4 linked regions of the Homo sapiens genome follow. The protein of the gene in region 3 purifies or fractionates together with the protein of the main gene of each other region. This does not show direct contact. Each region holds a gene or a part of one and is shown on either strand. Other genes may lie near its edges.

Region 1 (3,500 bases), on a different chromosome or scaffold from region 3:
CTAAGGTCTTACAAACAATCCAAAGCAGAAGGGAAGAACCAGAAGAGAGTGCACAGCCAACCAGCAGACAAGAGCCCCACTAAGGAAGAGAACGCAAAACCAGGCAGCCCAGCCAAGAGAGCAAGAGCCTGGCAAGTTCTCCACATCGCACATCACACCTGTGTCTTCAGGCCACCAAACCCAGCACTGCAACTCCAGCTCAGAGCAGCAGCCACGTGCCTCAGACATCAGGAGAAGGTGGTCAAGGGGGATTCACCCGCACTAAACCAGCAGAAAGAGAAGGGCTGGACAGGACTGTCACTGTAAGGATAAGCAAAATGGATAAGGAAAAAGGGAAGTGCATTTATGCAAAACTATAGTGAAAAAAGAAAAAAGAAGCATAGTATACAGAAGATAGGTGAAGAATCTACTCGAAAAGAAAAAAACCCCACCAAAATAAAAGCATTCCTCGGACTATTTCACCCTACAGAAAAACCTAAAGAAAAGAACTCAAAAAGCATGAGGGTGAGATAACAGGAGATGAAAACGGAGCTGACAAAGCTAAGGAAATACAGAGAGAAGCCTTAGCTGAGCACTTAAAATAGTTACTGTTCTCTCCTCTGCACTCTCTACCCCATTACTTTGTATCATTAACTAACATCCCCTGTTGTATTTTTTACTGTTTGTCTACCTTCCACTAGAACATAAGCTCTACTGGAGCAGTCAACTTGTTTACTGTCCCCTAACTTATCCCCCTGTGTCTCCAGACAGCTCTGACATAAGAGTGAACTCTTAAAATTGCTGAATAAATAAGGAAAAGATGAATAATTAAAGCAACAAGAAAATAGTAGATGAGAACAAATAAAAATGATCCAACATAAACGTAACTGGTACTTCAAAATGAAAGGTCAAACCATAGAACATAAATAAATGCAAAGATTTAACAGAAAAAATTTTCCTGATTCCAAGCAAAACTTTGGTCTGCCTGTCAGAAAGGCACAGACTCCAGAAAACTTGATATGGAAAGATAAATACAGATACATCTGGGTTACATGAACTAAAAAAAAAAACACCTTATGAGGAGAGATTACAAAGGTTAAGTAAGCCTGGCCTCAGACTTCTCCAAGATATTCAGTGAAAGAAAATGATGGAATAGCATCTTCCAAAAAGAAACAAACTGTGACCCAAGAATATTAATCCAGCCAGGTCATCATTTAAGAATAGTCAATAGGCTCATATGTTTAAACATGAGTCAAAAGAAAATGTAGCCAACCAATAAGTAAAAGGAGAAGCTGCAGTAAGACTGGTGATAGGCAATGAATCGACTTTTTTAAAAAACAGATCAAAGACTAAACAACCAGTAAGAAATATGTTTTCAAAAGATAACTATTATAAAACTTGGTAACACAAAAATAACATTGGAACAAACAAGAGAGAAAGGAGGAAACTCATAGGAAGGAATATGAGTGTTTATTTTCTTCCCTTTCTAAACAGAGTCTATTAAGTCAATAAACAGGTTTAAGTACATTAATTAATGTTACAAAGAAAACCACTAGAAGGACTAAAATAAGACTATAATAAGCAAAACTCTAGAGGTAGGAGGAGGGAGAAGTTAAAGAAACCATATTAGCGTAAAGTTTCCCATTTTCCAGAGCAGGAACTCCATAAATACTGAATAAATTTCCTAATTCATGAAAGAGGGTAATGATATAAACATATAAAGTAATTAAAGGTAACTACCAGAAGAACTGAAAAAAGACAATAAGCTTCCAATAAGCTTCCAAATCCAAAGAAGGAAAGTATGAATGTATGAGCACACACAAAGAAAAAAAGAATCTATATCGCAAAATAGGACTAAGAAAATACTACAAATTAGGAGGAAAAACATAATTAAGGCCAAAATATATCTGATATCAATAAATATTGTGTGAAAATTCACACAATATTTATTCATATCAGATATAAGATAGAATAAGAAAAAATAATATGAGATATAAAAAAGAGTAAGACTCACAAATTGGGTCAAGTGACAAACTATATTTTCCAAAGACAGCAGCAACAATATCTCCTCTTCCACAAAGTCTTCTAGCACCTTCTTATTCCTTATCAAGAGCAGAGCCTAATTCCCATTTCCTTGAATGTGAGTGGGCAGCAGAAGCGATGCTATGACATCTTAGCTAGATTGTAAAAGCTTGCGAGCTAGAACACCCCACAAGTGAAGTACTGGGCTGCCACGTAAGCAGTCCCACCACCATGAGGCCACCATGCCATGAAGAAGCCCAAACGAAGGCACAGGGAAAAACATGTGGAGAGGCCATGGGACCTCATGAAGAGGAGATGGCTCACAACCCCCATCATTCCAACTACTGTCTGACTACAACTACTCAAGACCCCAAGCCAGAATCTCCCAGCAGAGCCCTTCCCAAGATCCTGACCCATAGAAACTGTGAGATAATGGCTGTTGTTGCTCTAAGCCACTATGTTTTGGAGTGATTTGTTAGGCAGCAATAGGTTACCAACCATTATTTCCAGAAAAGACCACTAATAATCTAGAAAACTGGTGGGAAGGGGTTTTTTAGGATCTCTTCTCCAGTATTATAGAGAAAGGTAAAGTTGGGAAGCAAAACTTGGGAATTACATGATGAAGCTGCCTATTCAAGATAGGTCCCTAATGATAAGGACTCAGTTGTAGTTGTTGCTTCCTATGATTACCATCAGACATCTTAATGGATTATTTGAAAGTTCTACACTGATACTCACCAACCACTTTACTCTGAAGGAGAAGAGTGCACTAAAAGCAAATATCACCCACAGTACTGGACAGGCAATAAGTCCCAACCAAAAGATTCTTGATTCAGCCTCTGACACAGTTTTATTCTCTTGAGAGGACTCCTATAAAAGAACATAAATTCAATTATCATGTTGTGAAATTTATCAATAAAAAGTTCAACATGTTTAATAAAAAACATATTACCCACAAGTTCAAATATTAATACACACAGCCCAACTCCTAAGTTAGAACCCAAAAATACATGACTATCACTCTTGTAATTTTAGGAACTGATCTATATTAACTCAAGAATTTTGCATTTTCAGGGCAGGATGGATGGTTTACCACAACTCATGACAGTAAAGAGTGGTCTCTGATAGGATTCTATTCAATTCTTCTTGCACTTGTACTATTTATTCATAAGGAAGCTCTAAATGATACCTTTCCTACCAATGATCAAGGAAATCACAGTTATAATCATTCTGGAGACTAAAAGGTCAAATTAGGGTCCAGAGGAAAAAAAAAAAACGGAATCAAGGGATTCTGGACAATAATCAAAATGTCTTAGCAATACCCAGGAAGTTACAAGGGTGGTAAGTTGTTTCCAAGGTAGATTCTATAATATAAAAGAATACAGGCTCATTGAACACAGTGCCACTTTCTTAAAATAACTTGTCAATACCCTTGGTGTACTGTCGCCAAGAATTTGGTCCTCTGCTTCCAAAACTTATTTCCACAAGGAAAGTGAATA
Region 2 (3,500 bases), on a different chromosome or scaffold from region 3:
AAGCTTCTATAGTAAAATAAATTGTAATAGAGGCAAGTCCCAAAGGCTGAGTGATCAGAGAGCAGGAGAGTCAGGAAGGCTTAGAAAGTTAAAATATCATTCAAATTGCAAAGTAAGAAGGACATGGAGTTTTCTAGGCAGAGGGAAGTGGGAAAGCACATATGATGATGTAAGTGTACATGGCATGATATGAGACAGGTAAGTAGTTGCTGGATAGATTGGGACAGGAGGACAAGGTGGAGATAAATTAAAATAAGAAAAGCTGAGACTTTGAACCTTCATCCCATTCAACAACGTTCAATGCATGCCTATGTGAACACTTTTTGAGGATTTAGAAATGACTAAGAAATGATTCCTTCCATAACACTGTCACTGTTATTTTCTAAATTAAAGAAGAACTTCTTTAAAATATTAAAAAAGAGAGAAAAGTATGTGACCATAGCTAATTTGTGGTCACGGAAGTCAAGAACTCGGGTCTTCTTACTCCTAGAAAATCCATAGGAACAGCAGGATCACACTTAATCTCAGAGAAGAGAAATCTTTGTAAGTTTCTCCAGCTTAAAGAAGGAAACCACTTTTTGTTGGTTGTCAGGGATTAGTGATGCTCATTTTAAATGTGTGTCAAGCCCCTGGGTCAAAACTGTTTAGTAAGGAAACAGGAAGCAATCAGCTGGCCTTTGCTCTAGCAACAGATCTTTGCTGTAGTGGGCCATATCTGGGATTCATCATAGGGTCTAACTACCAAACTGTCACCCATCAGCTGAAAGTGGCAGAGAAGATAATTGTTTTACTTTTAGAATCTTCAAAACCAACAGGACATTCTGACAGGTTCAGATGTAAAAGTTCAGTCCTTATAATGTTGTGCTGCTCCCTTCTTCTCATTATTTCCTCTCCAAATCCTTGTTCCTAGTGTGTGCTTACCTACAAAGCAGTGGTTACATGCCTGCCATCACAACTAAATAATATCCATGCATTATTAATCCAGGGAGTCAAAAACATGAAGGGGATGTAATCATTCAGGACAGCCTCTGAGTCCAGAAAGGACTGAGTTTTAATGACAGCTCAATCCATGGACGCTGTGTGACCTTAGAAAGCTAGCTAAATTCCCAGTAAGTTGTCAAAAGGGAGGGCTGTCTTCTTGGTATTGTTGTGATGATTTAAGGAATACACTAAGTAAACTCAGATTACAGAGCCAATCACAGAGTAGGCACTCAGGCCATGTTGTTTTCCATTTCTGTTCACCTGACTCCCCACCTGCCCAGTTGCCCCTAAAATTAATTTCACCTGCTAAACAGTGAGATTTACCTGGTCACCTCGGTGAGCCTGAATAACCGTGATATTGCCATTCTCATTCACACTATATAGCACTATCTGGCCGGTATAATTTGCCCGAGGAGCACCAGCAACAAAGTGAGTGCTTTCTCCAGTAGAAATTGCAGCCACAGAGTAACCTAAAAGGGAAGGAGCAACAGAGTGATTAACATTGACTATCTGAGCAAAATAAAGTTAAAAGAAGTGAGTAAAGGTGACCAGAGATCCTTTTGTGTTAGATGTGATGCAAAGTTTCTAGTGCTCCTGAATACATCACTGAGGACATGTCTTCCTTTTTCTAAGATGAATTGCTCCTGTCCTTTGACCTGCAGCACTTCCCTTTGCAGGTGGGACTTCTACCTATAAAACTGCCTCTAGATTCCACGCTGTTCTCATCAGCCACCTGTGAACCTGGCATTCAAAAAATATTTCTTGAACGAATGAATAAATGTATTTAAAAGGTAGTGTTGCACAGTAGAAAGAACACAGGTCTTGGAAACAGGCTGAGGTTCAGATTCTGGATTTGCCGCTTACTAGGTTGTTGAACGTTAGACAAGTTGTTAATCTTGCTATCTCTCAAAGGCAAAACATCCCTGAAAGACTTGTTGGAAAGATTTAAATGTTTATGTAGATAGACTAGCAGCTCAGGAACTGTCCCATAGTAAGTCTGCAAAATCAGTGGCTGCTTATTATAAGAACAAGAAGACTAAGAGCTCTAAAATACTATAAGACTATCACTTACTGTATTGACTTTTGGGAACTATTTCCATTTTGGAGGAACACAATCATGTTCCAGGAATTACAACCACTTGACCAGCCAGAAGAAACTAGTGAGTATAATATAGTATTCCAATAAGTAGTTATGCCTTAAGGCCCGATTGGCAAAGAGACAACATATGTATGTGTAATAAATATGATAATTAGATGACAGTTCAAGGATTTTGCTGAACTCACCCTGAGATTCAACAAAGAGCTGGTTTAAAGCAAGGGAACTTAAGTTTGCTGAGCCAATTATTACCATGCCTTACCTAAATATGAACTGTGATTTCTGTCCTGCAGAATTTGGTCAAAGGCTTGTTTAGGAAAGATCAAATGGCCATGAGATGTCTTCTGGACAATGGTCCCACTCCAGCCAAAAGCTCCCACTGCACCCAGCATCAGAATATCCTAAAATAATTGAAAAATGAAGATCATTGAAACAAATCACCTTTAAAACATAAGAATGCAGGGTAGGCAAAACATTGAAATAAGTTGTTTAGATTTATTAAAAATGATGAAATATATATGAACATATATTGACATATTGTAGAATTGTCTTAATATATTTGTGCTAGAGAACAAGCCTTCCCATTGGCTGTGTTATTTTGGACTTTATTTAGTATGATATGTTATACAGACAAACCTTTGTAATAACCTGTAGTACAGGACAGGTACAGAGCCATCTTCAAATTTCCCTTTCAAAGGCATATATTTGCCAATGGTAAACCCTTATGAACTTTACAAAGGAGTCAGAAGTGAGTCTCTCACTCCACATATTTATAAGGAAAGCTCACAGCCGGATATGAGACATGCTTGAGAAACAGAAGTACTGACACGGGAGAGACGGAGATACTTCTGCTATCCCAGACACGGCTCGGGAGGCCCTCTTCTGACCTGTTCTACTTTCAGCTTTCTTCCTCTCTCTTCCTGACCCCTTCTCAAATGTTCCAGTATATTCCTATATTCCATCTATTTGATAATAGCACAGCTACAAGAGGCAACTTTAGCTGTGACATTCAATCTATTGGAAGGAAAATAACCATTTGTCAGCCCTGTGGGGAGGGCAAAGGAAGATGCCTACTCTGGATTGACTTGAAACCCAATCTAAACACTCAATGCTATAAATCATCAAACGAGGCAGATTTGGTGAGGATGAGATACACTATTTTTAATTTTTTGTTCTTCTATCTTAGAGCGTACCAAAGATAAGATGTTGGACTAAAAAATACAAGCCATGAAAAATAGCAAGTAAGGAAAAGATGTGTTCTACTTTGAGGATAAGAGACCATGAAGTTATGTGAATGACTGTAGTAAATTGAGGGACTCTGGATTTGGGGTGCATGAAAGGACTTCAGCGTATGTACAAAAACCTCATGGGATTGTGTGCAAAATTCTCCGTGCATAGATTCATTTACATTTTTTCTGAGGGA
Region 3 (3,500 bases):
AATTATAAACCTCATATTTTTTAAAATCATTGTCTAGAGGTTTTAAAACTTTCTAGCTAATTTCCCATTGATAATACGAGAGTTTAACTAATTATATGAGAAAATTCATGAAGACATTTGCCCATGAAATATTAACATATAGGTACTGTTATCATTAAAGATTCATACTTAAACCCCAGAGAAGATAAACTGTAAATATTAGACTTAAAATTATTATTCTTACCATAGTGAGTCCTTAGTTGTGTCTTTATCTCACCAATTGTTTTACTTGAACCAATGGCATTTGTCAAGGGTTCTACATCAGTCTCTATAGACATAAAACACATTTCAAAACACTTTTTAAGGTAACCATTTATGTTACACATGTATTTTAGTTCTTTTTTCTTTTGAAATTTCTTTTTCTTTTCTTTTCCTTTTTTTTTTTAGAGACAGGATCTTGTTCTGTCACTCAGGCTGGAGTGCAGAGGTGTGAACATGGCTGACTGCAGTTTCAACCTCCTGGGCTCAAGTGGTCCCCCGCCTTGGCCTCTCCAAGTAGCTGGGACTACAGGTGTGCACCACCATGCCTGGCTAATTTTTGTATTTTTTGTAGAGATAGGGTTTTGCTGTGTTGTCTTTTGAAATTTCTATATTATTTGCTGATATCTCTGTTACCTTCCTTTTCTTCCTTAAGAATAATTTCCTTTAACTCTAAGAACACACTTATAATAAGTGCTTTGAGGTTTCGTTGGCTAGGTCCAACACCTGGAACTCTCACAAACAGTTATTGTGGCATGCCCTTTTCCTTGGTGTAGGTCACACTTCACTGTTTCTTTGCATGTTAATAATTTTTGCTCAAGTTTTGACAGTTTCCGTAGTATATTGTAGCATCTCCAGGTACTGATTTCCTCCTCCTCTATCTGGGGCTTGTCATTGTTCTCTCCTTATTTATTTGCATAGCGATGTGACTGGGCTATTGTACTAAAGTCTCTTGCCTGTAGTGTGAAGTGCTACTGCTGCTCTCCAAGGGGCAGAGCCTTGAACATGCATCCAGTACCTTGGATAACATTGGTTTTAGAGGGCCGGCTTCGAATGTGTCTCTTTACCTTATTTCTCTGTTAAGCTGTCTGCCTCTTTTTGTATCACACCAGAGATAAAGAAAATTGTATAACTACATAACACCCTTACACCAAGATGAAAGCCAGTAATGTAATCTCTGAATTATGTAACACAAATAAAGTACTGTATTGCAGGTGAGATTTTATAAATTTGCCTGACATTTTTATCAAATAGAAGGAATGGATAACCAGTGAAATAATTATGTGTTATACTCCTCTTGTCATCGCAGTCTTCAGCTAGCCTTTGTGCTTTTGCCTTTCTGCTTTTGCTAATTAAATATCACTTTTCAGAAACAAAAGTAAGTAGAATAGCTTTGGAAATGCCTACATTGAGACTACTCTAAGGTAACTGTAACACTGAATTTTTATGCATTACTTTTCAAATGGATGAGTTTTAAAACCAATAATATGCTAATGTTCCACTGATAGTAAATGCTAGAGCTTAATTAAAGGATATTCATGATGAATTTTACCTATGTAACACTAACATGTAGGCACTATTGTCATTAAATGTCTATACTTAATTTAACTCAGGGAACATAAATAGGTCACAAATATTAGACTCAAAAATTATTTTTCTTACCCTGGTGACTCTTTAATTGTGCACTGATTGGTCCCTTTATTATATCTCTTCCAATAGCATCTTTTAAGAGTTCTTTATCAGTCTCTATAGAATTAAACAGATTTCAAAATACTTTATAAGGTAAACATTACCATACATGTGTATACGTGTGTGTTTAACTAATTATAGAAGGATATTCATGAAGAATTTCACCAATGTAACACTATGATATAGGTACCTATGTAATAATAACATGTAGACACTGTTGTCATTAAAGGTCTATACTTAACTCAGGGAACATAAATAGGTCACAAATATTAGACTCAAAAATTCTTTTTCTTACCCTGGTGACTCTTTAATTGTGCATTGATAGTCCCTTTATTATATGTCTTCCAATAGCATCTTTTGCTATGGAAAGTACTATGATACAGGTACTGTTGTCATTAAAGGTCTATACTTCAATTTAACTCAGGGAATATAAATAAGCCTAAATATTAGACTTGAAAAATTCTTTCTCTTACCTCGGTGACTCTTCAGTTGTGTAGTGATTGGCCCTATTATTATACCTCTTCCAATAGCATCTGCCAAGAATTCCTTATCAGTCTCTATTGAAATAAAACAGATTTCAATATATTTTATAAGGTAAACATTACCATACCTCTGTGTGTATCTGTGTGTGTGTGTATGTGTGTGTGTGTGTGTGTGTGTGTGTAATTATGGAAGGGTATTCATGAAGAATTTTACCTGTGTAATACCAACATATAGGTACTATTGCCATTAAATGTCCACACTTAATTTAACTCCAGGAATATAAATAAACCATAAATATTAGTCTTGAAATTGTTTTCTCTTACCTGGGTGACTTTTTAATTGTGTCGTGGTTGACTCCTTCATTAGACCTCTTCCAGTAGCATAGGCAAAGAAGTTCTTATCAGTCTCTATAGAAATAAAACAGATTTCAGTATATTTTGTAAGATTATCATTACCATACTTGTGTGTGTTTTTGTGTTTAATTATAGGAGGATATTCATGAATAATTTTACTTATGTAACACTATAATATAGGTAGTTTTGTTATTAAAGGTCTATACTTAATTTAACTCAGGGAATATCAATCAGCCATAAATATTAGATGTGAAAAATTCTTTTTCTTACTTTGGTGACCCTTTAGTTGTGCATTGATTGATCCCTTTATTATACCTCTTCCAGTATCATCTGCTAAGTGTTCCTTATCAGTCTCTATATAAATAAAACAGATATCAATATATTTTGAAAGGTAAACATTACCAAATCTGAGTATGTGTATGTGTTTAATTATAGGAGGATATTCATTTAGAATTTCACCTATATAATACTAACATATTGGTACTATTGTCATTAAAGGTTCATACTTAATTTAACTCCGGGAATATGAATAAACCATAAATATTAGTCTTGAAAAAAATTTTTTTTACCTTGGTGACATTTAAATTGTGTTTTAATTGACCCCTTTATTATACCTCTTCCAATAGCATCTGCTAAGAGTTCCTTATTAGTCTCTATAGAAATAAAGCAGATTTCAATATATTTTATAAGGTAAACATTTTATGTGTGTGTGTGCATGTGTAGTGCACATGTGAGTTTTTATTATTATAGTAGAAGAGTCACAACATGTCTTATTGCAGTAAGCATCACAAAACAGAATTTGAAGGGCTATTAGAACTCATATAAGCCTATTATATTGAAGTTCAGAGATGCTTCATGATTTGAACAAGACCACATCAAGATAATGACAAAATTGATGTACAAACTGACACTTTATAATTCCTTAACCACTGACTTTACCATATAATGCATCTCTTA
Region 4 (3,500 bases), on a different chromosome or scaffold from region 3:
AGAAAAGCTATTATTCAAGATCTAAACCCAGTATCATCCACATCTTCCTTCTCCTTAAGACGCGCTCTTTCTCTGGGGGAGAAGGTCCCAGGTAGTAGCTGTTCTCTGCAGTGTCCAATTCCAATCTATCCAAACAGTTGTACTTTTTAATAATCTATCACAGCCAGTTTTAACCCCTAGTGGTGAAATTAGTGTATTTTCCAGCCTGTTTTTATTACGTATTACCATTGTCATGCACATCTGTGAAGGCTCCTGTATTTGTCACTTCATTGTCTATTTTTCCATTACACCCATCTAGACCTTTATTAGAAAATTATGTTTTCATGTCAGTTATACCTATGAGGCTGTGAGTCCAAGATAACTCAGTCCCCATCTTATTAAATCTGTGGTCTCTGGGCCTATGTGCCCAATCTCTCACAATAGATGGAGACAGAGAGAAGCGAGGAAGAAGAAAGGAAGAAAAAAAGAGGAAGGGAAGGCGTTAAGCAAAATAGCAAAACCGTCCTACTGGCATGTCTTTGGGCTACCTGATAGTGACATCTGGATATTCTCGTCTTAACGAAGCGAGCAGATTTCAGGGTCAGTCAAACGTGTGAACCTGTGTTCTAATCCCCTGTTTTTCTGTTCACTAGTGGACTACTTTCCAGAGCTTGGAAAAGCAACTTAACCCTTCTAAGCTTCAATGTCTTCATCTGTGGAATGGAGAGGATAACAATATCTAACTCTCTGTAATATGAAGGTAAATTGAGGAAATGTTTGTTGAGCTCATCACAGTATCTGGGAAAGCCTCAACGAACACTGGCTATTGCTCTTATTGCCCCCTTGGATGATCTCAAAAGTCACTCTGCCTCCCCAGTTCTGATCCTGGAACATCCCTTTTGCTAAAAATGAGCCATAACCCCACTAAGAAGCTCTGGGGTCCACTGTTCCCTTTCCCATAAAGGTAGGAAAGTCAAGTCCCCTCTGCGATTCTCTTTGGTCACAGCCCAGCAGTGAGGCAGAGAGAAGAGATTCTCACGTTTGAACATGGCTCAGCACTAAGCAGTCCTCTTACCTCTGGCCAGACAGGAGTCCCTGCTGGCTACGGATTCTTCAGAAGTGACAGAGCATATTTTGTCCAGCAGAACTCTGAGGATTGACGATGAATGAGTTAGTGTCTGACATGCAAATCCTAATTATAATTGCCACAATGCCAACATTAGAACAATAACAGTTTCTTGGGCAGTAATGGGAAAAAGGATGCCAAGCTCCAGAGCATCCTGGTGGAGACGCCAGGCAGTCTCTGGAATCACACTGGCTTGTGTTTGTATCCTGGCTCTGCCACTTGCTAGCTCGGTGACCCTGGGCAAGTCATGTGACCTTTGTGTGCCTCAACTTTCTCATCTGTAAAATGACAAACACTGTACTTACCTCATAAGGTGGTTTAAAGGATTCGTTGAGGTATTATAGGTAAAGAATTTGAAACAGTGCTTGTTATATGGTATGTAAGCACTCAATTAAAATCATCTATCATTAAATCAATGATCCTCATGATACCATGTATAAAGTAGACCAAAGTCCACACACCCCATCATTTAGTATTCACCCATCCATCCATCTATTCATTCAGCAAGTATTTACTGAGCTCTTACATTATGTACAAAGCACTGCTCTAGGTGGTGAGGATACAGTAAAATATAGATAAAACTCCCTGACCTCACAGAGCTGTCATTCCAAGACTAACAATTGAAGTCTCCCCTAACACCACTGCATAAAAAGCAGTTCGCAACCAGGGATAATTTTGACCTGAAGGGGACATTTGGCAACTTCTGGAGACATTTTTAGTTGTCACAACTGGAGTGTGAAGGGTTCTACTGTCATCTAGTGGGTAGAGGCCAGGAATGCTGCTAAATATCCTACAACACACAGGACAGCCCCCTGAGAACACAGAATTATCTGCTCCACATGTCAATAGTACTGGGGCTAAGAAACCCTAGCATGAAGGTATCTGTTTGAGGTTAATAAGTCCTCTGTTGGGCATGGTCTTGGGGTGCTAGAGGCTACTGAGGCCACAGAGAGAGAACTCAGGCAAAAGAAAAGACATGGGATGGATGGAGAATAAGGCTGCCACAAGACTCTGGCTTTGCCTGGACTCATCCTTCCCAAGAGAGATGAAACACACGAAGTCCAAGAAATTGGAGGCTCCAAGTCCAGGATCAAAATAGTCCTTTTTATTAGTGATAAGTGGCCCCTGGGCTGCCAGTCTTGCAAACAGAATCCAGTCCCTTCTTTGTCAGTTGATGGCTGAGAGGCTGGTTGATTGCCTAACTCTCAAGCATAAGACTTTACCGTAAGGACCCAGGAACTACCACCAGTCTAGGGAAACAGGAGTTTAATCAGGAGTAGAGACAAGGCTACAGCTCCCTGAACCTCCCTAATGCAACAAGCCAAAGGATGCTTCTGACTTAGGAGGCAGGGCAGAGAAGCATACACAGGTTTAAACAGCAGAGAGACCTAGTGGGTTTGCATTCCTGGCTCAGTCATGTGGCAGTTGAGTGATCCTGGATGTCAAAGTGGAATGAATAAGAACACAGACTCTAGAGCCAGAGCTTGGTCACTTCCTGACCATATGCCCTTTGGCAAGTAAATGTGTCATCTCTGTGCCTTAGTTTTCTCCTATGGAAAATGGGTACGAGCATGGTACCTGCCCAATAAGTCATTATGAAGACTGAATGCATTCCTGAAATGCATTAATCCAGAAAATCACTTAGAACAGTATCTGGCTCAGAGTACACACTATGCTGAAGTCTGCTACTATCATCCCCATTGTAGTCATCACTATCTCACTGCAAACAAGTGATTTAGTTTCTCTGAGACTCAGTTTCCTCTTTTGAAAAACGGGCATTACATAGTTGACCTGGAAGAACATAGGTTTGAATTGTGCAGGTCCACTTATATGTGAATTTTCTTCCACCTCTGGCACCCCTGAGACAGCGAGACCAACCCTTCCTCTTCCTCCTCCTCCTCAACATGAAGATGATGGGGATGAAGGCCTTTATGATGATCCACTTCCACTTAATGAATAGCAAATATATTTTCTCTTCCTTATGATTTTCTTAATATTTTGTTTTCTCTAGCTTACTTGATTTCTCTACTTAATTATAAAATACATAATACATGGGGCATAAAAGTATGTATAAGTCAACTGCTTATGTTATCTGTTAACTGTTTATATTATGCTATGTTTACGTTATCATAAGGCTTCCGGTCAATAGTAGGCTAGTAGGAGTTAAGTGTTGGGGGAGTCAAAAGTTATAGACAGATTTTTTACTGTGCTGGGTGGGGGCCAGCTATAGTTGTCACCTCGCTGGCCTCAGGATTCAATAATGCATGTTAAGCGCTTGCCAGGGAAGTTGATATATTGTAAGTGCATATTATTATTTATTAAAAAGTTTGACCAAAGCAATGAAACCAGTTCTCATTTACTGCTACATTAAACTATTCACCTTGACCAAAGAGAA

The links.
Region 1: the proteins of CCDC7 (region 3) and TVP23B fractionate together in Homo sapiens (co-fractionation; one large-scale study listed by BioGRID). This does not show direct contact.
Region 2: the proteins of CCDC7 (region 3) and ITGA2 fractionate together in Homo sapiens (co-fractionation; one large-scale study listed by BioGRID). This does not show direct contact.
Region 4: the proteins of CCDC7 (region 3) and KAZN fractionate together in Homo sapiens (co-fractionation; one large-scale study listed by BioGRID). This does not show direct contact.

What each region holds. Positions count from the first base shown.
Region 1 is NC_000017.11:18,798,183-18,801,682, reverse strand, and holds part of TVP23B (Golgi apparatus membrane protein TVP23 homolog B), read right to left. Parts: intron 2,872-3,500; coding exon 2,740-2,871; intron 301-2,739; coding exon of another isoform or gene 298-300; exon of another isoform or gene 254-297; intron 1-253.
Region 2 is NC_000005.10:53,058,852-53,062,351, reverse strand, and holds part of ITGA2 (integrin alpha-2 precursor), read right to left. Parts: intron 2,479-3,500; coding exon 2,340-2,478; intron 1,452-2,339; coding exon 1,306-1,451; intron 1-1,305. UniProt on the Homo sapiens protein: Integrin alpha-2/beta-1 is a receptor for laminin, collagen, collagen C-propeptides, fibronectin and E-cadherin. It recognizes the proline-hydroxylated sequence G-F-P-G-E-R in collagen.
Region 3 is NC_000010.11:32,844,640-32,848,139, reverse strand, and holds part of CCDC7 (uncharacterized protein C10orf68), read right to left. Parts: intron 2,898-3,500; coding exon 2,814-2,897; intron 2,598-2,813; coding exon 2,514-2,597; intron 2,265-2,513; coding exon 2,181-2,264; intron 1,765-2,180; coding exon 1,681-1,764; intron 308-1,680; coding exon 224-307; intron 1-223. UniProt on the Homo sapiens protein: May play a role in tumorigenesis.
Region 4 is NC_000001.11:14,605,185-14,608,684, reverse strand, and holds part of KAZN (kazrin), read right to left. Parts: intron 1-3,500. UniProt on the Homo sapiens protein: Component of the cornified envelope of keratinocytes. May be involved in the interplay between adherens junctions and desmosomes. The function in the nucleus is not known.